Homo sapiens: one gene and its partners. The protein of the gene in region 1 interacts with the protein of each later gene in a biochemical or structural test. Each region holds a gene or a part of one and is shown on either strand. Other genes may lie near its edges. The genes, in order: COL2A1, PKD1, PDGFA and MAG.

Region 1 (7,034 bases):
TGCGCAGAGGATGGTTCGCAGGCCTGGGAACACCCCCATGTTGGTAGAAGGAGCTTCCATGTGGCATGTGGGCTGTGTGGGTGGGGTGTAGGGACTGACAGAGTACAGGCTGGCCACAGCCAGCCAGAACCAAGCTGCTGATCTCCTGGGGAGGAGGGGGCGGTGGCAGGAAGAGCTTCCCGGGAGGCCAGACCCCAGACCGGTTCTGTGGTTGCCTGACAGGCTTCTCCTAGAACACAAGTCTCCTGTGGCAGAGGGGACAGAGCTGCCTGTGGCAGCCTCTTCAGGCTGGGTTTTTAGTGCCAAGAAAGCTGCATCTTCGAAAACCTCAGGGGTCCATTGTTGGGGCTCAGACAGAAGCCCACCGTCTTCCTTGGGCCACTGGGCCTCACTGTCTCCCTCTTTCCTTTCCAGGGTCCTACTGGAGTGACTGGTCCTAAAGGAGCCCGAGGTGCCCAAGGCCCCCCGGTGAGTGAGGCCTCTGACACCCCACCCTGCACCTCACAAAGAGGCCTGGCCCCAGAGGCTCCCATGGCGGGGGTGTTCTGGGATGCCCCCGACTGTTTTCCCAGCCCTGCGTTGGTCCCCAGCCTAAGCCCACCCACAGCCAGGTGGGAGAGAGGGCGCCTGTGGGCTGGGTGCACTGTGGTCCCGGATTCCCCAGCCCGAGGCTTGTCCCTCGTTCAGCTCCCTGAAGTGCTGACTGTGGAAACCGGAGGCAGGGAAACAGCCTGTGCCTGCTTCTATGACCAGACCCGGGGGCCCTTTCTCCCTCCCTGGATCCCCCTTGCTGCTTTGCAGTCCCTCGCCCTTTCCATACCAGGCTCTGAGACCACCCCCGCCCCCCGCCCATTTTAATCTCAAACCTCCTGAGGGCTTGAGGTTCTCAGGGGCTCTCCTCTCCCCACACAGGGAGCCACTGGATTCCCTGGAGCTGCTGGCCGCGTTGGACCCCCAGGCTCCAATGTAAGTGATGCTCCTGGCATGAGAGGCACAGGCAGGCATGGAATAGCCTGGCCCAGCACCCAACAGGGTCTGGAGAGCTCCAGGCTGGCCTTCACTCCTCTGAGTCCGTTCCTGCCCCCTGGAGGAGTAGCTAACTGATCATGGGGACCTATCCCCTGAGGGTGGCTGGGGGCAGGGTTGTGGCCCTGCTGTCAGCAATGGGTGGCTGCCCTGCTGGCTTGGTGGGCAGGACAGGGCTGCCATGATTACCTTCATCCTGGACAGATGTTTCTTGAGCATGTTCTGTGCACTTGTCTGTGTGCTTTAAAGCAAGTCCGCATGTCCTGGGTCGCTCTCAGGGAGTTTGCATGGAGGGAGCAGTGGTGATGAACTCACTGGGTTCACCAGCGCCATAGGCAGAGGGAGAGAGTGCTGGGGGCAAGCTCAGGGGTCAGAGGGGCAGGGCTGGAGCGGCTCCTGAGGAAGGGGGATTGAGGACAAAGGGAGGAGGGAGGAGAGATTCCAGGTAGATGGGAGAAAGCAAAGCAAGCAGGAGCTGGAGAAGTTGGGGCTGTCTGCCCAGAGCTGTCTCACATGGTGAGAAGGTTGCAGCGGTAGATTGGGGTTGGGGGGGTTAAGCTGCCTGCCCTTAGTGTGGGGAGGTAGAGAAGCCCCCAGAGAGGAAACTGCTGTCACTGAGGCCACAGTGACTTTGGCAGCCTGGATGAGGAAGGGTGAGATGAGTCCTCACTTCCCGCATTTTCTCCTTCTAGGGCAACCCTGGACCCCCTGGTCCCCCTGGTCCTTCTGGAAAAGATGGTCCCAAAGGTGCTCGAGGAGACAGCGGCCCCCCTGGCCGAGCTGGTGAACCCGGCCTCCAAGGTCCTGCTGGACCCCCTGGCGAGAAGGGAGAGCCTGGAGATGACGGTCCCTCTGTAAGTCCCTCACCAGGCCCATGCCAAGGTCCCTGGGAGCAGGGTCGTGAGTGGCTTCTGAGCTCACAGAGCATGGGGTAGGAGGGAGCAGGGGCCGTGGGGATGCCAGGGAGCGGGGCTGCACAGACAGAGCTGTGCTGAGAGGACAGAAGAGGCTGGGCCACTGTCAGTTCTCATCTCCTGCCTCTCCTCTCTCAGGGTGCCGAAGGTCCACCAGGTCCCCAGGGTCTGGCTGGTCAGAGAGGCATCGTCGGTCTGCCTGGGCAACGTGGTGAGAGAGGATTCCCTGGCTTGCCTGGCCCGTCGGTGAGTGTGGGGTATCCCTCCCTCCATCCAAGCTGGGCCCTGCCTGCCAAGGCTTCTACCTCCCTCAGCACCCTCAGGACTGTCCCTTGTCTGCCCTCTCCCTGAAGGGTCAGTGGGCCCTGGGCAGGGGTGCTTACCACTTGCACTCATCATCCTTGTCTCTGTCCCTCCAGGGTGAGCCCGGCAAGCAGGGTGCTCCTGGAGCATCTGGAGACAGAGGTCCTCCTGGCCCCGTGGGTCCTCCTGGCCTGACGGGTCCTGCAGGTGAACCTGGACGAGAGGTGAGCAGTGAGACCCCCTGGGGTGGCCCTGATTGGGGAGAGGGGCCCTGTGAGTCTCTGTGCTGGGTCAGCAAGGACAAGTCCCAGTCAGGGCCCTGGAGAAGGGGGTGGCAGTGTCGGCCGACAGGCCTGAAAGCCTAGGTACAATGGGAAGGTTGTCGGGGAGAGAGACGGGCATAGAGACCAAGGGCTGCTTCCGGAAGGAGGAGGGAAACTTGGTGAGGAAACTTTGGCTTCAAAGTGTGAGTGAGTTGGGCAGAAGAGGAGAGGCCTGGGCTTCTGAGAGGGGCTGGGGGAGCAGAGGGGGAGATGGGCAGGAAGCAGCTCTAAGTGCATTCTTGTTTCACTTTGTCCAGGGAAGCCCCGGTGCTGATGGCCCCCCTGGCAGAGATGGCGCTGCTGGAGTCAAGGTGAGTGTCTGGTGTCTGTGTGTGCAGTGGGTTGGGGAGGACATTGCCTCGGGCCTGACAGGTCAGCTGGGGGTGGCAGGTTGGAACAAGTCTCATCTCAGCCTAGAAGGACCTTCTGTTCCTGTCTCTTCTGGAACATTCTTCTCTGAGCCTGAGACCTCTCTCCTGACAGGGTGATCGTGGTGAGACTGGTGCTGTGGGAGCTCCTGGAGCCCCTGGGCCCCCTGGCTCCCCTGGCCCCGCTGGTCCAACTGGCAAGCAAGGAGACAGAGGAGAAGCTGTAAGTATCCTGAATTCAGTAAAAGCCGCCTTCCCCTGCGCGGTGGGGCTGAGGCAGTCCCTGGGTTTCCGCAGTCTCTGGACTAAGGAGCAGTGGCCTCAGATGCAGAGGAGGCCCCCACCTGTCCTGGCTTTTCTCTGACGCTGCGCTCACTCTCTCCTCAGGGTGCACAAGGCCCCATGGGACCCTCAGGACCAGCTGGAGCCCGGGGAATCCAGGTGAGTATCCAAGTGTCCTGCACTGAGTCCCCACCAGGGATAGGCTGGGAGGGCAGCCAGCCTCCAGGTGGTTCCTGGGCCTCCAGCCCTGTGTTTCCGGGGATTCCTCAGCTTGGGTGGGACAGGAGGGGGCTCCTGTCCTGGCCCTGACCTGACTCAATCGGTGTCTGTCTTGTTCCCAGGGTCCTCAAGGCCCCAGAGGTGACAAAGGAGAGGCTGGAGAGCCTGGCGAGAGAGGCCTGAAGGGACACCGTGGCTTCACTGGTCTGCAGGGTCTGCCCGGCCCTCCTGTGAGTGTCACTGCCTGCGTGGGACTTCCCGAGGCCTCCTGCCACACAGAGCCCACTTGAGCTCCCTGTGCTGCCAGGACAGCTTGGGATCACCCTAAGCAGTTTCTAGGATTTCCTCAGGGCTGGAGGGAGGAGGAAGTGGAAAGGGAATGGGGCTGGGACATAAAGCTGTTCCCCCAGCTCCCAGAATATAGATAGATATGTCTGTGCTGACCGTGGCCTTTTGCCTCTTCCTTCTACACAGGGTCCTTCTGGAGACCAAGGTGCTTCTGGTCCTGCTGGTCCTTCTGGCCCTAGAGTAAGTGACATGGAGTTGGAAGATGGAGGGGGCCCTTCAGAGAGTGTGGGCCTGTGTTCCCATGGGGAGGGAAATGCTGCTGCTTCTGGGGAAGCTGTGGGCTCAGGGGTCCTCACTCAGTAATGGGGGCAGGACTGGCTCATGTGCCTATGGCCAGAAAAGCGCCTGAGGCCACAATGGCTGTAAGACAAACATGAATCAGCCTCTCGCTGTCAGACAGAACAGCATTTTACAAAGAGGAGCTTAGGAGGGTAGGCAAGCCATGGAGCTATCCTGCTGGTTCTTGGCCAAATAGAGACCAACTTAGGGTTCCATGACTGAGCATGTGAAGAACTGGGGGCGGAGTGGCTGGTGCTATCAGGACAGCCACCTACCCAGCCCCAGCGACTCCCCAGCCTTCCCTGTGGTGACCACTCTTTCCTCACGACCTCTCTCTCTTGCAGGGTCCTCCTGGCCCCGTCGGTCCCTCTGGCAAAGATGGTGCTAATGGAATCCCTGGCCCCATTGGGCCTCCTGGTCCCCGTGGACGATCAGGCGAAACCGGCCCTGCTGTAAGTGTCCTGACTCCTTCCCTGCTGTCGAGGTGTCCCTACCATCCGGGAGGCTTGAGCTCTTTTTTGCTCAGGGCCTCTTTTAGGGCATCAGCCTGCAGCTAACAGTGATGGCATCCTTTATCCTGAGGTCTCCTCAGAGGTCACAGGGCCCATGATCAGTGCTGGGAAACTGAAGAGAAGGGCTAAGGAAGAAATAGACATGGTGCTGTGGTTTCCTTGGTCCTCGCCTGCTACACCTCCGCCCCACCCATGGGGCTGGGAAGAGGGACACTCTAGTACATTCTAGCAAATGGGGATGGACATGGAGGGGCACTTTCACACAATCCTGGCTGATCTCTCTGTTTCCTGCTGCAGGGTCCTCCTGGAAATCCTGGACCCCCTGGTCCTCCAGGTCCCCCTGGCCCTGGCATCGACATGTCCGCCTTTGCTGGCTTAGGCCCGAGAGAGAAGGGCCCCGACCCCCTGCAGTACATGCGGGCCGACCAGGCAGCCGGTGGCCTGAGACAGCATGACGCCGAGGTGGATGCCACACTCAAGTCCCTCAACAACCAGATTGAGAGCATCCGCAGCCCCGAGGGCTCCCGCAAGAACCCTGCTCGCACCTGCAGAGACCTGAAACTCTGCCACCCTGAGTGGAAGAGTGGTAAGCTTGGAGAACAGGATCCCCTGCCCCGGGAAGCAGGGAGTCATCCCTTAGGCCTAGCAGCAAGGGAGGAGATGCCCCCTAGTACAGGGCAGAGCTGGGCCTGGAAGTTTCCGCCAGAGGGTTCCTCTCTTATTTCACAGCAGAGAAGCTGCAGCCCTGGCCCCTGTCCTGCCATGGCTACCTGGCCGAGGTGACCTCAGGGTGGACTCCATCCACCAGCTGGGCACTGCTTCTGCTCTCTTTGCATGTGTTCTTCCTTAGGGCTGGACTTAGCTCATGCAGATCTCCCTGCCCCTGCATCCTCCCAGGTCCCCCTCCTTTCAGGCCACATGTGAACCTCATCCCTTGTCCCTGTAGGCCTCTCTGTCTCTTTCAGTCAGGCCTGGGTCTCTCAAGCTTTTGTGTCTGTGCCTGTCTGAGCCCCCATGGGTGCTGCCTCTTCCCCCTGCAGGAGACTACTGGATTGACCCCAACCAAGGCTGCACCTTGGACGCCATGAAGGTTTTCTGCAACATGGAGACTGGCGAGACTTGCGTCTACCCCAATCCAGCAAACGTTCCCAAGAAGAACTGGTGGAGCAGCAAGAGCAAGGAGAAGAAACACATCTGGTTTGGAGAAACCATCAATGGTGGCTTCCATGTGAGTACCTGGGTGCCCTAGATGATGAGCAGAGATGGCTCCTCAAACTCTTTCTTTTCTTTCTCCCTGGAAGCTTTTAGCACCTTCCCCATATTTTCCTCCAGTTTTCTGTTGGGCTTGAGAGGAGGGAAAGAGGAGGAAAAGTATTTTTTCCCCACGTGGAGGTGGGAAAAGAGGTCCTCTGAGCTTGCTCCACTCCTGGAAGCAAAAATGTCCAACTAGCTCCCTGCTGCCCCAGTACCCTTGAGGTCCTTGAACCATGAACTCTTGGCAGCCCCTACAGCCCCTGGTCCCATTGAATGCCAGCTCCCAGGCCTCACACTGCCGCTCTCTGCCCCAACAGTTCAGCTATGGAGATGACAATCTGGCTCCCAACACTGCCAACGTCCAGATGACCTTCCTACGCCTGCTGTCCACGGAAGGCTCCCAGAACATCACCTACCACTGCAAGAACAGCATTGCCTATCTGGACGAAGCAGCTGGCAACCTCAAGAAGGCCCTGCTCATCCAGGGCTCCAATGACGTGGAGATCCGGGCAGAGGGCAATAGCAGGTTCACGTACACTGCCCTGAAGGATGGCTGCACGGTGAGTGGGGCTGCCAGAGAGAAGAGCTGCCTGTGCCCAAACCGCCTGGAGCAGGGCTGAGGGTTGGCCCGCGGCAGCTGTCAGGTCCTAAAGTGACAGGATCATCAGAGGCATGAGTTTGAGGGTCATGTAGAGAAGATAGGCTGAGTGACAGGTGAGAGAGAGGCACATATCATTCCATCTTCTCCATTCCCCTGGCTCAGGGGAACAAAACCCTACCTGGAACCCAGTGACTACTGTAGAAGTGTTCTCGCAATGTGTACAGGGTGAAGAAGCGGTCACAGGTTGGGAGCTCACTGTGGGGAGTGGGGAAGGAGGGGAAGGGCAGGGTGGAGAAGGGCCCTGCCGCTAAGGATAGGAGTTGAAGTGGAGAGGCCTTTGGCAAGCCAAGAAGAGGTCTCAGGAGCCCCCTCAGTGTGGTTCAACCTTGTGGGCTCTGATGCTCGCCAGTTTGTTCAGTTTTGGGCTTCTGGGCAGCTGGAACTGGGTAGCAAGGCATCTACTGAACAGAGCCTCCTCCTTTTTTCTCCCCTAGAAACATACCGGTAAGTGGGGCAAGACTGTTATCGAGTACCGGTCACAGAAGACCTCACGCCTCCCCATCATTGACATTGCACCCATGGACATAGGAGGGCCCGAGCAGGAA
Region 2 (2,725 bases), on another chromosome or scaffold:
CCCCTGCCTACGTCCCCAGATGGCCTCACAGGTGCATCATAGCCGCTCCAACCCCACCGATATCTACCCCTCCAAGTGGATTGCCCGGCTCCGCCACATCAAGCGGCTCCGCCAGCGGGTAGGGAATATGGGGCTCCCTCAGCGGGGTGTGCTGGCTGCCCAAGCTGTGGGGCGGGTGTGTGGGCAGAGCGGTTGCCACGCCTCCCAGACTTACTGCCCAAGCCGCCTCTGCCTTCAGATCTGCGAGGAAGCCGCCTACTCCAACCCCAGCCTACCTCTGGTGCACCCTCCGTCCCATAGCAAAGCCCCTGCACAGACTCCAGCCGAGCCCACACCTGGCTATGAGGTGGGCCAGCGGAAGCGCCTCATCTCCTCGGTGGAGGACTTCACCGAGTTTGTGTGAGGCCGGGGCCCTCCCTCCTGCACTGGCCTTGGACGGTATTGCCTGTCAGTGAAATAAATAAAGTCCTGACCCCAGTGCACAGACATAGAGGCACAGATTGCAGTCAGACAGCTCTTTTATTGACTTTGTCTGCTTGGTGCGGGGGTTGGGGGGGTGTCGAGGCTCTAGAAGCGGCCATGCCCACAGAAGTGGTACACAGAAGCAGGCACAGCCAGCTCCGAGGGCCTTGAGGCTGCCTGGGCCATACAGCACACTCGCGCGTGCGCGCGCGCACACACACACACACACAGTCACCTTCCTCCACCCTGGGAGCCAGCCCCCAGGAGGAGTCTTTTCCTCTAACCACCCTGGGGTCCTCTGACATGCCTAGTCCTGCTACTTGCCCAGACCTGATGCCAGCAGGCCTGGGCGCTGCTCTCTTGCTACCTGGCCTGGGGCAAGGGAGGATGACAAGGCCTCTGGGGTGATGAGAGTGCCTGGCAGACAGCTGTGCCCCCAGCACCGGCCCAAGGCCAAGCTCGCATCCAAGCAGCAGCCGGGCTGCCATAACGCCACCACACCTACCAAGCGCAGCAGGTGTTGGGGGAGGCCAGCTCTGGGCGCAGGCCCCTCAGCCCTAGTGAAAATAGTGACATACAAAAATATACACATTTTAACACCATATAAATTACTGACACGAGACACACAGTGAGACGGTGCAGGGAGTACGGTAGGAACTGGAGAGGTAATAACTTAGGGGCAGGGTGGCGGCGGTGCAGGCTAACCCTCCCTGAAGCCAGCAGCCTTAGCAGTGGGGGACATCTGCCCAGGGGGTGGGGCCGGGCACAGCCCGCTGTACCTGAGGACTCGGGGAAATAAATTAGCATCTCAGAGGCTAGAAACCGTCCAATACTGCTGTGTCCTTCCCAAGGGAGCTGGGGAGGGGACCCTGGGTCCTGGTTGGCCACACAGCCTCTTTAAAGTGCTGAAGCCCACAGACAGACAGATGCCCCTGCCTGCTCTCTGGGGAACCTACGTGCAGCCATTCTGCCTGGCCCTCGGCCTTGACAGCGGCAGAAAGTAATACTGAGCGGTGTCCACTCCGACTCCACGGCCCACCCCCGCCAGGAAGGAGGACTAAGTGCTGCTGGGGTGGACCTTGTTCTTGGCCCGAAGGGGTGTCCTGCTGGGGCCAGTGGCCAGGTCCACACCCCGACTGGCCCGGGCAAGGCGGCTGGGCAGTGCTGGCCGCAGGCCCGGGGATGGGCCACGGGAAGATCCGGCGGGCGCCCGGCTGCTCCTGCGGCCTTGCAGGCTGTGCAGCTGCTGCTCCAGCTGGTAGACGTCCTCTGTGGCCTGGTTGAGTCGGTCAAACTGGGTGAGCAGGGCCTCGAACACGGCTTGGAGGCGGGAGGGCTCAGGCTCACACCTTGTCCCCAGCCGGCCCAGGCTCACGCTCAGCCCATCCAGCTGGCTGGAGGAGGTGGAGGGGTGCGAGGCATCGGAGCCAGCGCTGGGTGGGGGCACATCCGGGGATACCTTGGAGCCCCTGGAGGAGCGAGAGGGCAGCGGCTCCATCCCTTCAAAGCGGACTTTGTGGCGGAACTGGGGGCGGCACAGGGGCTCAGTCAGTCCGGCTGCACCCTGGGCAGAGCCCAGGGCGTGTCCCTCTCCCCCCCACTGGGCCGTACCCACCTCCTTGACCTTGCTGAGGCCCATCCAGAGGCGCAGCCTGCGCAGGAACAACTCCACCATCTCGTAGTCCTGGGGCTCCCAGGCCGGCCGGTACAGCTCTCCACGCAAGGCGTGGTAGCGCCAGCGGAGAATAACAGCCCCCAGCCGTAGGGCGCCCCACAGCCGCAGTGCCCAGAGCCCCACACACAGCAGGGGTGACAGGTGCCAGGACTCGGCAGGACACAGGGTAGAGAGCCCAGTCCCAGGGCACAGCACCAACAGGGCCTGGGCCACGCTCCAGAGGGAGTCCACACAGGAAGACACGAGCTGCGGGGAAGGCGACACCAGTGAGGGCGTACAGCTGAGCTGAGCTGAGCTAAGACGCCCTCCCCGGCCGCGCAGTCACCTACCAGGATGGCCAGCTGGGCGTAGGCTACCCCGAGCACCACCAGGCCCAAGGTGACCCCCAGGAGCTCTGGCAGAGCTCGGCATAATGTCTTGCCAAAGACGGACCACTGGCGCACGAAGCGTAGCTGCTGGGCAGCCTGCGGACGAGAAATCTGTCTGCTTGCAGCCCTGGGGTGTGCGCCCAGCCCCGCGCCCACCGGCCCAGCCCTCACCTTGACCAAAAGCAGGAAGAGCAGCGAGGCCGCCAGGCCACGGGCTGCG
Region 3 (7,034 bases), on another chromosome or scaffold:
GATGGAATTCTGCTAAAGCAGCCTGAAGAAGGCAGGCACCACCCCCAACTTAAAGAAAGAGGGGCTCACCCTGGGATTCTATGGAAGGAAGTCTGCTGTCTGGCCTCGAGCCCACCCCAAGCACTCCTTCTCCTTCTCCTGGGCTGCTTTAGGGGGGAAGCCGGGGGGGCCCTCCAAAGGTCAGGCACTTCAAAAGGCAATGCAGGCTCTGAATATCCACCCCCTACTCCTCCTGCCATGCACCTCGGCCCCCACTGAAGAGCCCGCACAGGACCCTCCAGGGCCCGGGGACGCCAGACAGCTTCCGGCTAAGCAGCTCGACACCTCGCAAGGCCCAAAACGGCCCCCGCACTGTGGTCTAGGGCGTGGAAAGGAGGCCAGGCTCGTCGCCAGAGCAGCAGAGCAGAAGCCCCGGCCGGCCCTGCCTTTCCCGCACCCCCAGGTGCTCCTTCTCCTCCCTGGGCCTCAGTGTACCTGCCAGGGAGATGGGAGCGCAGCCGTGCACCCCCACCAGCCACACCAGGGGCACCTTGTGGCCTCCCAGGAGGGACCCTGGCAACCCAGTAGGGGCGACCCTCAGGCCTGCGTGGGGCAGGGCTCACCTGGATGCTGCAGTGTTGGATGCGTGAGGGACCCTGGCTGCTTGGTAGGGGCGGCCCCGGGCTCGGGTGGGGAGGGGAGGGGAGGGGCAGGGCTCACCTTGACGCTGCGGTGGTGGACGCGGGAGGGACCCTGGCTGCTAGGTAGGGGCGGCCCTTGGGCTCGGGTGGGGAGGGGAGGGGAGGGGAGGGGAGAGGAGGGGAGGGGCAGGGCTCACCTTGACGCTGTGGTGGTGGATGCAGGAGGGACCCTGGCTGCTTGGTAGGGGCGGCCCCGGGCTTGGGTGGGGAGGGGAGGGGAGGGGAGAGGAGGGGAGGGGAGAGGAGAGGAGGGGAGGGGAGAGGAGAGGAGGGGAGGGGAGGGGAGGGGAGGGGAGGGGAGGGCTCACCTTGACGCTGCGGTGGTGGACGCGGGAGGGCTGGCACTTGACACTGCTCGTGTTGCAGCAGCCGGTGCAGCGTTTCACCTCCACGCACGGGGGCCAGATCAGGAAGTTGGCGGACGTGGGGTCGACCTGACTCCGAGGAATCTCGTAAATGACCGTCCTGGTCTTGCAGACAGCGGGGACAGCTTCCTCTGCAACGGCGGGGGCACAGTGAGCGGGGACCGGCCTCTGCGACCACGGCCCCACCCCAGGGCTGAGGCGGCTCCAGCTGGGCCTGGGGGGCAACCAGGGTAAGCCACAGGCCAGGATTCCTCCCAGGCAGCAGAGGCTGAGCTGGGAGCAGAGGCTTAGGGGCTGGGTGGGCAGGAGCACCACACATCCAGAGGAGCCCAGCCCGGTGCCTGCAGGCTGGAGGGACCTGGACAGGTGGGGCCAGTGGCTCGGAGGGGAGGGGAACTTAGTCCAGGTGGGGCCAGTGGCTGGGGGTGGGGAGAGGGGAACTTAGTCCAGGTGGGGCCAGAGACTGGGGGTGGGGAGAGGGGAACCTAGTCCAGGTGGGGCCAGAGACTGGGGGTGGCAGGGGCAGAGGGGAACCTAGTCCAGGTGGGGCCAGTGGCTGGGGGAGGAGGGGGCCTTAACAGTGAATCCTACAGCACTTGCTGCATGCTCTAGCCTTCAAAAGTGGTCTGAAGGGTGCAAAATGCAGACCCCACAGCAAATGTCACCTGGGGAGGGCCTGCTTGCATCAGCTGGGACTAGCCAGCCACACATGACACTTTAAGGTGGAAGATACAAAATCCATCTTCATGGAGGAAACCACAGCTCAGAGAGGGGGGTCCACCTGCTCAGGGCCCCAGAGCCATGAGCAGCACCAGGGCTCAAACCCATCAGGTGGGACCCCCGAGGACGCGGGACTTGGGTAGAAAGCAGGGACTGGCCCCTGAACTCCCCAAACCTGCTAGTTCCTCCTCAGGGGGCTGGAGGGCCATGGGGCTGTCCTGTAAGAAGGGACAAAATATCCCCCAAATGGACGCGGGGGTGGAGCCCTGGAGCCAGGTGTGAGTGGGGCGGGGCACACGGGTGTGGTGAGGGTGTCGGGGGGCAGCCGCCGGACACAGCACGCGCGTCCCCACCAGTTCAGCAGCCGGCGCAGGAGCACGATGCCCACACTGCGAATTGGAAATTAGGCGCGACCACGTTTCCGGCAAGGCTCCTGGGGACAGGCCCCGACAAGACAGGGCGCTTAAGGAATTTATGATGGCTCTTCTCTCCTGGAAGCTCTCTTGGCCCAGACCAGGACTCCAGGAGGAGCAGGCGGGCTGGGGCAGGAGACACCCTCGAAGGAGGGAGGCCTCGGGAGAGGCCAGAGCCAGAGGCACCAGGGCCAGGCCTATTTTAGGGAGGAGGGAACGGGTGGCTTGCCTGAGGCCACTGCGCTGGGAGAGCGGGCAGCTCCTCCCCACCCGGCCCTGCCCTGCCCATCGCGGCCTCCTGGACTCACCCTGACCCGGCCCTGCCCTGCCCATCGCGGCCTCCTGGACTCACCGATGCTTCTCTTCCTCCGAATGGGCAGGGGCCGCTTCTCGGGCACATGCTTAGTGGCATGGACCCCGTGAGCTCTCAGGCTGGTGTCCAAAGAATCCTCACTCCCTGCAGGCGGAAGGAGAACACCGTGAATGCCCCAGGCCCGTGCGCTGTGCCCTGGGCCTGTCCAGCCGCACTTCCCACAGACCAGCTTTGGGAGCCACTGGGGAACAGGCACCTGGCGGCACAGCCCCTCACAGCTCCCGCCATTAGGGGCCCTCCAGGAGAACCTCGATTCCCACCAGGGCTTTCCAGAGATGCAGGGCATGAAACACTGGAAACCGCAGAAAACGCCCCGTTAGCACAGAGGTCCCCACATTCAGGGGCCCGTGACGAAGCGCAGGGCCCTTCGGGGAAGAGGTTGCAGGTGGTCTCCCCTACGGTGCCTCCTCCAAGGTAGCCCAGGTGAGGGCTGCCCCGGGGCAGGAGGGGCCTGAGGCCGCCCAGCTCCGTGCACCTCCCCGAGGGGCACAGGGCTAAGCCAGGCCCCACCTCTGTCTGGGGGCTGGAGCGAGGGAGAAGCAGAGGCCGCTGAGATTTCTGCAGGTGCCTGTACGTCTCCCTCCCTCCCCCTCACTAAAGCACTCCTGGAAGAAGTGGCCTAACCTCTGAGGGGCACTGGAAGCCGCCAGACTGGGCTGCGGGCCAGACCCCACTCATTCCTGAAATGAGTCTACTCTAGGGCCAGCGGCCATGAGGAGAGGCAGGAGGGCACGTGGCCTCTCGTGGAGGCTACACGGAGGAGTTCCCGCAGCCTGACAGAGGGAGGCGGCCTGCGGAGAGGGGTTGAGAGAAGCTGGCATCTGCGAGCCGTGTTTACAGCCAGGCGGCCAGGTGCAGGTGGGGCAGTGGCCCAGAGCCAAGACCAGCACTGACCGGGGAGCAGAACTGAGAACCTATCCCCGCCACCCCACCCAGCTGCACACACCACCCCTTCACAGGCGCTGACGGCTACAGCAGACAGGCTGGGGGAGTCTCAGGTCTCTCCAAATCCCGCAGTAGGGAGAGGACCCACAGTCCTGCCCATGGACACACTGCCCGCACCTGGGCACCGCGGGTGGCTCTGGGCCTCCTTGCCTTGGCCCCCTGGTCCCAGCTGGGGAGTCTCTTCCCATCTCCCTCCATCCTGCCCCCCCCACCATATAACCAAGGGTGAACAGGCGCGGAGACAGTGAGCCTCACAGCCAGGATGCTCCAGAGGCACAGAGATCTCCCTGCCCCCTCCTGGGAAGCTTGGGAAGTCCCGGTCACCAATCCAGACGGCTAATGGGCTCTGCACCTCCTGGGTTCAGGACTAGCAGCCCAAAGTGTCTCTCCCCAGCCCATCGAGGCATCCGTGACTATCCACAAACCAACCGGAGAAACCTCAGCTTCCTCCGCACCCCCGAGGAGCCTGCGGATTTAAAATGAAGCCCGCAAACCTCACAGAAGGTGTCAGGCAAAGACGAAGCTCGCCCGGAGCCCAACTTTTTACCGAAAATGACTCAATGTTCCAATGACACTAATTTTTTTTGAGACCCAAAATAAGATCAGAACAGAACTACTCATGCAGTAAGAATTTCCCATCAACCAACTGTTACAAGCAGCATTTCTTTTCATGAAAAAGTGACACTTATGAATCACATCCTGGTGGTGGCCATCTTGCCATGGCCAAACCAAAGAGTAACGGGTCCGTTCTCCACTCGTAGGAGAAAATTCAATAACACCAGCTCCCATTTTCCGATGCCTTGTGATAGCCACGTTTGCATTAGCTGCTTTACCAATGACTTAGCTTCTGAGTGTGCGGTGGGTGCTATCACTTCTTCACATCCGAGGAAACTGAGGCCCAGAGAAATATAACAGGACCAGAAGTGGCTCGCAGGAGACTCATGTGGTCTGCGTCCACAGAGCACAGTCCCCGTGCCCCGCCACCCTCTAGCCCTGGCTTAATAAACAGAGAAGACGGCAGCCGTGCTAGCTCATTGACCCCCAGAAAGCCTGAGCTGGCAAATTTCTTGAGACAAGGGACAGAGGGGGAATAGCTCCCAGTCTACCAAGCCCACCCTTTGCTCCCAGCTCAAGATGCCGAGAGTGGACCACGCTCACCAAAGCCGCCCACAGCTCACCAAACACAGCTCTGAGCAGCCCAGGCCCAGGTGGCCTGGCCGGCAAGAATCACCCCTAAAACTGCTCCCAGGACAGTTAACCAGGAGGCTTTCCCTTTTGTCTTTTAGGCACAGATGTCCCAAGGACAACTCCAGGACAGGGAGAATCTCCCAACCATCAGTCCTGGTCTGGCATTACTGGCCCGAGATGGGGCTATTTACGTTATCAGCCGCTCAATGAACCACGGGCGCCAGGCCAGACCACTTTGGGGAACAAAGCTCCCCAGCTGCCACTGCACACAGGACAAACAGGCCCTAAACGCGGGCTGCCGGTCATTAAAAGACCACATGCTGGCCTCTGGATCTAAAAGCCACAGGTGAAAAGCCTTCACTCTTCACTCCAGCACACCCTCCGAATGAAACGCTTGGGCTCCGGGAGGATGGTGAGGAATCCCACTACCCGTGCTCCTCCAGCCACAGTCAAGGAGCGGCCAAGACCCCAGACGGTGCCTGGCTCAGTCTCCCCAACTGTACAGTGGGACGCAGCCTGCATGCTGGGAGGAGCCAAATGCCAGTCACAAAGCCCCACCCACCTGGAGGAGGAGTCAGCATAGCTGGGGCGCACCCCTGGGATTCCTCAAAGCCTCTTTTCTGCTTCCTACAGCGTGGGCCTTAGAGGCACCTAATGCCAAGAACATCAGCCTGGAAGGGTTATAAAGGGACTCCGAGGGAAAGTTCGTTGCGTTGGGTTTCTCCCAGCACCCAGCCCCTTCCTCATGAGCCCCTGCACTGTCCCCTGCCCCTAACAGACCAGAAGCACCTCTGGATTGAAAAGGGAGTCCAGGACCCGGAGGGATGCTTACCCAATGAGAACTGACCTCAACCAGTTTACAACCCTCCCTACGACAGAGAACGGGAGTTGAAGAAAAGACACCCCCTACAAGCTGGAGGAGCAGCCGGTGCCTCTCCTGTCCTCAGGCGAGAGACTGTGGGTTTCTCTGGTTCTGTTTTCAGCCACACCTGGGGAGGGGACTGGACAGGACCAAGGAGGCCCCCCTATGTTACAAAAGGTCCCCCACCAGGGGCAAGAGAGGAGGTAGATGCCACCCCCATATTCTCACACACAAAGCCTCCCAGACACTAGGAGAATCCTATTCAGACCCCAAAACCTCTCACGGACACAGGAGGGCTGAGATCCACTCTGCATTCCCTGGGGCAGGAGGAGAGAGCTCCTGGGACATGACTGCAGAGGGAATTTGAAACCGGCCAGGACTAGCTTAGGGGCATCCTTGTTTTTTTCTGTTCGGACCCTACGACCTAGAAGCCCCCGGGTGAGGAATGCCATCAGCATACCCCACGAAGCTGCAATGCTAAAGGCGATAATGGGTGGGGGTGGAGGAGGCGGGGCGCCAAGACCAGAATAAGAATAGTCCCAGCAGAAAGTGAATGGCCCATTTCCCTGCAGCTTCCAAAGCCAGTCCCACGAGGAGGCCCAGCTCTCCACAAGCCTCCCCTTCTGCTAGCACCCCCCCCCAGAAAAAGCCCTGAAACCTTCTCCAGGAAGCAGCCCCCCCCCCCCACTTTTCCAAACCCATCCAGGACCAGCGAGATTCAGGCAAGGGATTCCCCCCCACAAACCAGAGCCAGATCCTTTTCCCTAGAGTTATCCACTGAGGGATCCGGTCAAAATCCCCCCGCCCAGCTGTGCTGTGGGAGTGAAACTCTACCGCACCCCCCACCCTCCGCCCCCGATAAGGATCAGCCCAGGGATTTCCTGGGTCAAGAAACTACAGAAACCATCGGCCTTGTTAGAAAATGGTTTTGGCATGAAACGAAAATAGTTCAGGCCTCTCCACCACCATAATTAGGTACAAATTTCCAAATGACTAGACCATGTGATTTCACTTAATCCCCGCATGCCCCCCCTTTTTCAGAGTCCTTTGCAGGGAGAGAAGAATCTTCATGTCACGTAACTTCTTCCAATTCTGCTGCCTTTAGTTACTCTTTTTAACAAGTTCATCGCAGAGCCCCTTTTTAAACCAGGTTAAGGCTCCGACTGGAGTTCCCAGGCCGAGTGCTCATTTTGAAAAGAGCGCCACGCACGCCTGGAAGAGAGACCTCGCCTTCTAGGAAGGGGCTCTCTAGCCCTGAGCGGGCGGGCGGCCACCCTACACCCTCGCCCCTCCCACCCACCCGTGGTCCACCGGGGTCCCCCGGGGTGAGAGGCCCCTTTAACCCTTGCCAACCCGCAGCAAAACTCTGTGCTTGCAAACAAGCTGTGTTCTCTAGTGGCCCGGCCCCAGGGCCCGAGGGTGAGCCGCAAAAATAGCCCCCAGGCAGCAGATGCGTCCAAGGCTTTTCATTGGGTCGTGAAAACAGAA
Region 4 (7,034 bases), on another chromosome or scaffold:
ACTCTAGCCTCAGCTTCAGCCTGGACAGAGCACTATGTCACAGGGACGGGCCGTTTCTCCTGGGCCCTGGCTCTTACACTCTCTCTAACCTCATTCACCTTGTAATACATAAATCAGATCATGGCACTCTCTGCTCAAAACCCTCCTTCTGTTGCTCCGTGGTTCACCTAAAATACAAATCCTTTATTTTTTATCGTTTAGAGACAGGGTCTGGCCCTGTCGCCCAGGCTGAAGTGCAGTGGCAGTACTATAGCTCATTTGCACTCTTGGCCTCTAGTGATCCTCCCGCCTCAGCCTCCCAAAGTGCTGGGATTACAGGCATAAGCCACTGCGCCCAGCCACATTTGACCATTTTTGACATGCAGAAAAAATTTCACATAGTTCAATGTAATGTATACAGCAAAAAGTACGAATATTCACCCTAAATGAAATCAGTATAGATTACAAACAGCCTTGTGTTCTTTAGGCGAGATTTTGCTGTCAAATCAGGGTGGTGCCAAATTTGCAAAAAGCCTTTTGATTTTAAAGCTTTATGTTCAGAATTGCAGAGGACGGTAAATCTGTCATACTCATGATAGTTACTGGAGGGTTTTTGTTTGTTTTTGTAGAGACAGGGTCTTGCTATGTTCCCCATGCTGGTCTTGAACTCCTGAGCTCAAGCAATCCTCCTGCCTTGGCCTCCCAAAGTGCTGGGATTATAAGGCGCAAGCCACTGTGCCCAGCCCAAAATACAAAGTCTTTCATCTACAAGGCCCCTCAGGCCCTGCCTGACCACACACTCTCTCCTTCTCTCCCCCTGGCTTAGTCCTTTCCAGCCACACCGGTTCCTTGCTGTGTCTGAAAATCGTGGAGCTTTCTCCCACTCCAGGGTCTGTACGTTTCTCCCTCAACTTGGAACACTTCCATCAGTTGCCTGTGGAACGCCCTCCCTCGCTCCAAACTGGCCTCTACCCATGCGGCGTCTCCTTCTCTGACCACCCAGGGAAGCTGCACCTCGCTCCACGTATCATTCACTCCCTGCCTCACTCAGTTCTCCTCCCCAGCACTCACCCTCCCTGCATCACACACTTACATAAGGGGCCTCCTGTTTCCATCAAGACAGGGGCTTGCTCCTTCTCCACTCTGGGCCCCACACGTAGAAGGGAGGAACCATGGAACTCTCCCAGCCCCCGGCCTCCCCAGACCCTTGGGGCTCACACAGGCTTAGACTATCCCCTCCTTTCTGGCTTCCAGGCTGTGCTCCTTCCTTTCAGTCTGCGCTGCAGATGCCCCCCACTTCCTCCCCTAAAGCCGCCTTGAACCCCGGCCCTTCCTCACCCATGAGATTCCCTCCTGCCACTAGCACCAAACACCACCCTCCACCCAAAGTCACTTGGTTGAGCTTTGCTTTGCTGCCACTGGATTACAAAAATAGTACTGGTAGGTTTTTTCTTTCATTTTCCAAAACAGGAAATTATTATTATTATTATTGTTATTACTATGATTTTTGAGACGGAGTCTCTCTGTCGCCCAGGCTGGAGTGCAGTGGCACGATCTCTGCTCACTGCAACCTCTGCCTCCCAGGTTCAAGTGATTGTCCTGCCTCAGCCTCTTGAGTAGCTGGGACTACACGTGCGTGCCACCATGCCTGGCTAATTTTTGTACCAAAATACGCAATTGTATTACAGCACAGAATGCTGCTTTTTAAACTGTGTTCTCTTTCTTGGCCTGAGAGTCCAGCACCCTCCTTGGCTTGCTCTAGACTGAGCACTGGTTCTCAGTGAGTTCTCACCAAAACCCACTTACACACAGGCAAGAGACCCTTGGCTCACCTACCCCACCTATTTTCAATTGCTAGCAAAAAGAATGTGCCGGTAACGGTGGTGGACCTGGGAGTCACACGGGCACACGGATTCACGGCAGGAATGGGAACCTCTGTGCAAACATCTCTAAGTCTACTGAATAAAAAGTCCTGTTCGGGCAGAGCTGCAATATGCTTGCTATAGCGTTAACCAGCTAACACGCCACGGAGTACATTAATAACAGCGAACCTGAACCGACAGACATAAAACTTTTTCAAAGCACTTCCACTCAAGACAGCCCCACTGGTGCTCTGGTGACAAAGTGTTCGACCTGGATGTCGGCGGAACGCCGACACCCTGCCGGTGCACGTGCTTAGTATCTTTTCAGACAACCTGTGAAGCTGCGGAAACTGTTATGGGACTCTAGACAAACCTGTAAGACAAAGGTACAAAGAATGAGGAGTTTGTGGTGGGATGGATTTGGCTTGAATCCCAGCTCTGCCATCTACTGGCTGGGTGAGGCCACTCAGGCTCCTGGGCCTCTAGGATGGAGTTCTCATCTGTGCAAACCAGGGGGTTACAGTCAGTAACTCACAAGGGGCTACGGGACTCCGAAGATAGGCGCGCAAGTGTGTTGTAAACACTTAACATCCCAGCCGGGTGCAGTGGCTCACACCTGTCATTCCAGCACTTTGGGAGGCCAAGGCAGGAGGATCACTTGAGCCCAGGAGTTTGAGACCAGCCTGGGCAACAGAGCAAGACCCCATCTCTACAAAAAATTAAAACATTAACTGGGCATGGTGATGTGTGCCTGTAGTCCCAGCTACTCAGGAGGCTGAAGTGTGAGAATCAGTTGAGCCCAGGAGGTTGAGGCTGCAGTGAGCGATGATCAAACCACTGCATTCCAGCCTGGGCAACAGAGCAAGACCCTGTCTCAAAAAAATAAAAAATTAAAATTAAAAATACGTAACATCCCACCCAAGTACTCATGGGTGGATAGACAGAACCATTCCCGCAGAGAGGTCACATGAGCAAAACCTCAGCAGCAAAACACACAACAAATATTTAACCTGGAGTCCAAAGGAAAAATCAGTGAGAAAGATGATGACATCCAATATCCACAGAGTATGTAGCACTATGAACACTCAGTATTGTTCTCTTAGTTCTTCTTTTTTGTGGGGGAGTGGGGGGGTGGGACAGTCTTGCTCTGTCATCCAGGCTGGAGTGTGGGGGTGGGACAGTCTTGCTCTGTCATCCAGGCTGGAGTGGGGGGATGGGACAGTCTTGCTCTGTCATCCAGGCTGGAGTAGGGGGGTGGGACAGTCTTGCTCTGTCATCCAGGCTGGAGTGGGGGGATGGGACAGTCTTGCTCTGTCATCCAGGCTGGAGTGGGGGGGTGGGACAGTCTTGCTCTGTCATCCAGGCTGGAGTGGGGGGCTGGGACAGTCTTGCTCTGTCATCCAGGCTGGAGTGCACTGGCTCCATCTCAGCTCACTGCAACCTCCACCCCCCGGGCTCAAGCGATTCTCCTGCCTCAGCCTCCTGAGTAGCTGGAACTGCAGGTGTGCGCCATCACGCCTGGCTAATTTTTGTATTTTTAGTAGAGATGGGGTTTTGTCAGGTTGGTCAGGCTGGTCTCGAACTCCTGGCCTCAAGTGATCCAACTGTCTCAGCCTCCCAAAGTGCTGGGACTACAGGTGTGGGCCACCACGCCCAGCCTAATTCTCTTAGTTCTCACAGCCATCTTTGTGGTAAGATACTGTTATGAACCCTTGCTAAGGGTTGCAAAGCTGAAGTCACTCGCCTGAGCTCAGGCAGGAGGATGGGGACAGAGCTGGGATTCTAGCCCAGGTCTGTTCAGCCCTGTTGGGACTGGATGCCAGTCAAACTTCTGTTTCCTTGTATTAAACTGGGTTGAAGAATGGTACCCTCCCCTCAATCACATGGTTGTAAGAACAAAATAGGTCAATGCGTACAACGTACTCAAGCTAGTTCCCTAGACATCTCAGGCACTCGGTAAGGTTGCACACTTCCTGCATGCCCCGTGCCGTTCAGGGCTCTGGGGTTGGCAGGTAAGACAGAAGGCCCTGCTCAAGGGTCACCACCACTGTCAGTGAACATTGGAGACCTGGTGCCAGGGAACATTGACTGTGTGGAGAGGGAGGGGGCCTGAGGGTCGCACTCTCCAAGGGCAAGCACTTTGACACAGGCCTGGGTGAAGAGTAGGGAGCTGGCAGGTGGGGCAGGGGACAGGGCCACTGCTCCCCTCAAGTCTAGCAGGTGAGGCCTGCACACTCCACATCTGCCTGCGTGTTCGTTTTCAAGAGAAGCCGGATTGAGTCCTAGAGTGCTAAGAGCTGTGAGGGAGGTGAGGCAGCCAGAGGTTTAACAGCTGGGGCAGACAGGAGTCTGGAATTATCGGGCTCGGACCCACTTTTATAGCTGCCTGGCCTCAGGGAATTCCGCCCTTGAGTTTTCTCCTTGGTAAAGGGGATAATTATAACACACCCCTGTTTCACAGGGTGACCCTAGAATTGAAAATGAGCCAGATAGGCTGGGCATGGTGGCTCACACCTGTAATCCCAGCACTTTGGGAGGCCGAGGCGGGTGGATCACTTGAGACTAGGAGTTGGAGAACAGCCTGGGCAACATGGAGAAACCCCGTCTCTACTAAAAATAAAAAATTAGCTGGGCATGGTGACGCATGCCTGTAATCCCAGCTAGTTGGGAGGCTGAGGCAGGAGAATCGCTTGAATCTGGGAGGCAGAGGTTGCAGTGAGCCAAGATCGTGCCACTGCACTCTGGCCTGGGTGACAGAGCGAGACTCAGTCTCAAAAAAAAAATAATAATAATAATAAAAATAAGAACTGAACCAGAAAACAGCTGTAGAGGATTCAAGGTCTGGCCCAGGGCAGGCCCCTAACGCGCATTTGCTGCCTGCTGCTCTTACTATAAAGGAGAGATCTGCACCCCACCGGAAAATGTATGTGAGTTGGTGCTGCAGGCTTGTTCAAGTACTCCCATCGGCTCCTCTCTCTGACTCTTAAACTGAAGAATCACTGGTGTGGGGTGTAACAGGGATCAGGGGACAACCAGAGGGGGAAGCTGGCCCAGGATAGCACGCACAGTTGGAGGGAGCAGGGGACCACGCAGCCCCGCGCCAGGATCACATCAGCCCCGCTAGGGAACAGAACCAGGAGGGAAAGTGCCTGAAGATTATAGGTCAGCAGGAGAGGGACGGCTTTGCCACGAGAGGTTGCCCCCGAGGACTAACCTGTATCTGCCATGTACTGATTGTCGCCATGTACACAGCACAGAGCATGTACTGTGTAGCAGACACTGCTTTGAATTCTTTGCATGTTGAATGTCATCGAACCTTCTGGCAAACTTGTGTGGTGGGGGCCATTGTGGGCATCGTGAAGACCAGAGAGGTGAAATTTGGGGAGGAGTGCTAGAAGCCAACAGGAACTTGGGAGGAAGCAGGGGAAATGGAAACAGGAAGGCGATATTCCAGAGGGAATTGCTTAAGGAAGGGGAGTCAAAACTGTGACTTGGCTGCTACAACCTGGAGTGATGGCTGTGGGGGTAGGGGTGGTGGGAGATGGTGGCACAGTCCATAGTGAGGAGATGAGAGGCGCTGGCCAGCGGTGCAATGGTGAGTTTCATTTCCAAGACAGTAGCTTTTTATGTGCATCTGTGTCATCTCTCCAGCTATTCTGTACCTGTTCATAAGCGTGGTGTCTTCTCAGCCCTATCCTCCACCTCTCACAGAGCCGCACAGCCTTTTGTGTATAGCAATTACCCCATCAATGTATTCTGCTGTCATAACATAGGATGAGGTCAGCCTTGGGCAGGGAAGAAGAATGGAACCAGACTGCCTGGATTCAAACCTCAAATTCTGCCATTTCCTGGCTGTGGGAACTTAGGCAAGTGGCATAACCTCTCTGGGTCTCAGTTTCCTTCTCCGTAAACAGGGAAACAGTAATAGAACCTCCCTCATGAAGATGTCATGAGGATTAAATGAGTGGGTTGCTGTACAGCGCTTCCAACAGTGCCTGGTACATAGCGACACTCTACACAGGTTAGAGATCATGGTCATTGTTTCGGTTAGTGCAGAGGGGCAGTGGCCACAGGATCCAGAAATTTCACTGGTCAAAAGCCCACCCCAGGCTGCGCGTGGTGGCTCACGCCTGTAATCCTAGGACTTTGGGAGACTGAGGCAGGCAGATCATCTGAAGTCAGGGGTTTGAGACAAGCCAGGCCAACATGGCGAAACCCCGTCTCTACTAAAAATACAAAAATTTGCCAGGTGTGGTGGCGAGCGCCTGTAATCCCAGCTACTCAGGAGGCTGGGGCAGGAGAATTGCTTGAACCCAGGAGGCAGCAATTGCAGTGAGCCGAGATCCTGCCACTGCACTCCAGCCTAGGTGACAGAGCAAGACTCAATACTCTGTCTCAAAAAAAAAAAAAAAAAAAAAAGCCCACTCCCGGATGTGGGAACACAATATTCTCAGATGGGATTTTATTTTCCTGCTGTGAATTCAGCTTCCCTGCCCTCCCTTCCTTGTCTCTGCGGAGGACAGGCAAAGCCAATACTGATTGGGATGCGTGGGCACCCACAGTAACCCTGGTGTCCCCCACGGAACCGTCCATCCCCAGCATAGGGGAGCGGAAGGTACTCACACTCCACAGACAGGTTGAAGGCGGTGGCCCTCTGGCCATACTGGTTCTCAGCCACACACCAGTACTCTCCATCATCCTCGGGTGACACGGCCGGCAGCTCCAGCTGCAGCTCGCTCTCGTAGATGACCGTGGACAGGATCTGCTTCTCCTTGAAGATGGTGAGAATAGGGTCCGGGTTGCTCTGTGTGGAGCACAAGATAGAGACCGTCTCCCCCTCTACGGCCACCATTGTCCCGTTCACTGTTGGCTTCCAGGGTGCATCTGCGGGGTAGGACGGGACTGATGGTCAGAACCCAGGAGGTGCTTCTTCTGCCAGCCAACTACCATCCCCAGATATGACCCCAGATCCCACCCCAAACCTAGCACACCGGTTCAGGAAGGCTCAGGTGACCCCAGTCCTGGCTATCTCATTTCCAAGAACAGCAGCTTGGTAGCCAGCATGCTTGTCTTCAGATCCCTACTCTACCCCTGTCCAGTTGTGTGTGGACCCACATCTTAACCTCTCTGGGCCTCATTTTTCTCATCTGGAAAATGGGCTTCATAATAGTTCCAACCTCATAGGGGTGATCA

What was found.
Region 2: the proteins of COL2A1 (region 1) and PKD1 form a complex in vitro, tested with the Homo sapiens proteins (one study listed by BioGRID).
Region 3: the proteins of COL2A1 (region 1) and PDGFA form a complex in vitro, tested with the Homo sapiens proteins (one study listed by BioGRID).
Region 4: the proteins of COL2A1 (region 1) and MAG form a complex in vitro, tested with the Homo sapiens proteins (one study listed by BioGRID).

The regions. Positions count from the first base shown.
Region 1 is NC_000012.12:47,973,443-47,980,476, reverse strand, and holds part of COL2A1 (collagen alpha-1(II) chain isoform 1 precursor), read left to right. Parts: intron 1-414; coding exon 415-468; intron 469-912; coding exon 913-966; intron 967-1,718; coding exon 1,719-1,880; intron 1,881-2,078; coding exon 2,079-2,186; intron 2,187-2,359; coding exon 2,360-2,467; intron 2,468-2,823; coding exon 2,824-2,877; intron 2,878-3,049; coding exon 3,050-3,157; intron 3,158-3,321; coding exon 3,322-3,375; intron 3,376-3,557; coding exon 3,558-3,665; intron 3,666-3,909; coding exon 3,910-3,963; intron 3,964-4,406; coding exon 4,407-4,514; intron 4,515-4,871; coding exon 4,872-5,160; intron 5,161-5,614; coding exon 5,615-5,802; intron 5,803-6,145; coding exon 6,146-6,388; intron 6,389-6,923; coding exon 6,924-7,034. UniProt on the Homo sapiens protein: Type II collagen is specific for cartilaginous tissues. It is essential for the normal embryonic development of the skeleton, for linear growth and for the ability of cartilage to resist compressive forces.
Region 2 is NC_000016.10:2,088,208-2,090,932, forward strand, and holds the end of PKD1 (polycystin-1 isoform 1 precursor), read right to left. Parts: coding exon 2,677-2,725; intron 2,602-2,676; coding exon 2,467-2,601; intron 2,384-2,466; coding exon 2,078-2,383; exon of another isoform or gene 1,988-2,077; coding exon 1,520-1,987; 3' UTR 501-1,519; downstream 1-500. Other genes in the region: TSC2 (tuberin), read left to right, coding at 20-118, 239-403. UniProt on the Homo sapiens protein: Component of a heteromeric calcium-permeable ion channel formed by PKD1 and PKD2 that is activated by interaction between PKD1 and a Wnt family member, such as WNT3A and WNT9B. Both PKD1 and PKD2 are required for channel activity.
Region 3 is NC_000007.14:509,821-516,854, forward strand, and holds part of PDGFA (platelet-derived growth factor subunit A isoform 2 preproprotein), read right to left. Parts: intron 2,636-7,034; coding exon 2,531-2,635; intron 1,177-2,530; coding exon 989-1,176; intron 1-988.
Region 4 is NC_000019.10:35,302,139-35,309,172, reverse strand, and holds part of MAG (myelin-associated glycoprotein isoform a precursor), read right to left. Parts: intron 6,726-7,034; coding exon 6,465-6,725; intron 1-6,464. UniProt on the Homo sapiens protein: Adhesion molecule that mediates interactions between myelinating cells and neurons by binding to neuronal sialic acid-containing gangliosides and to the glycoproteins RTN4R and RTN4RL2.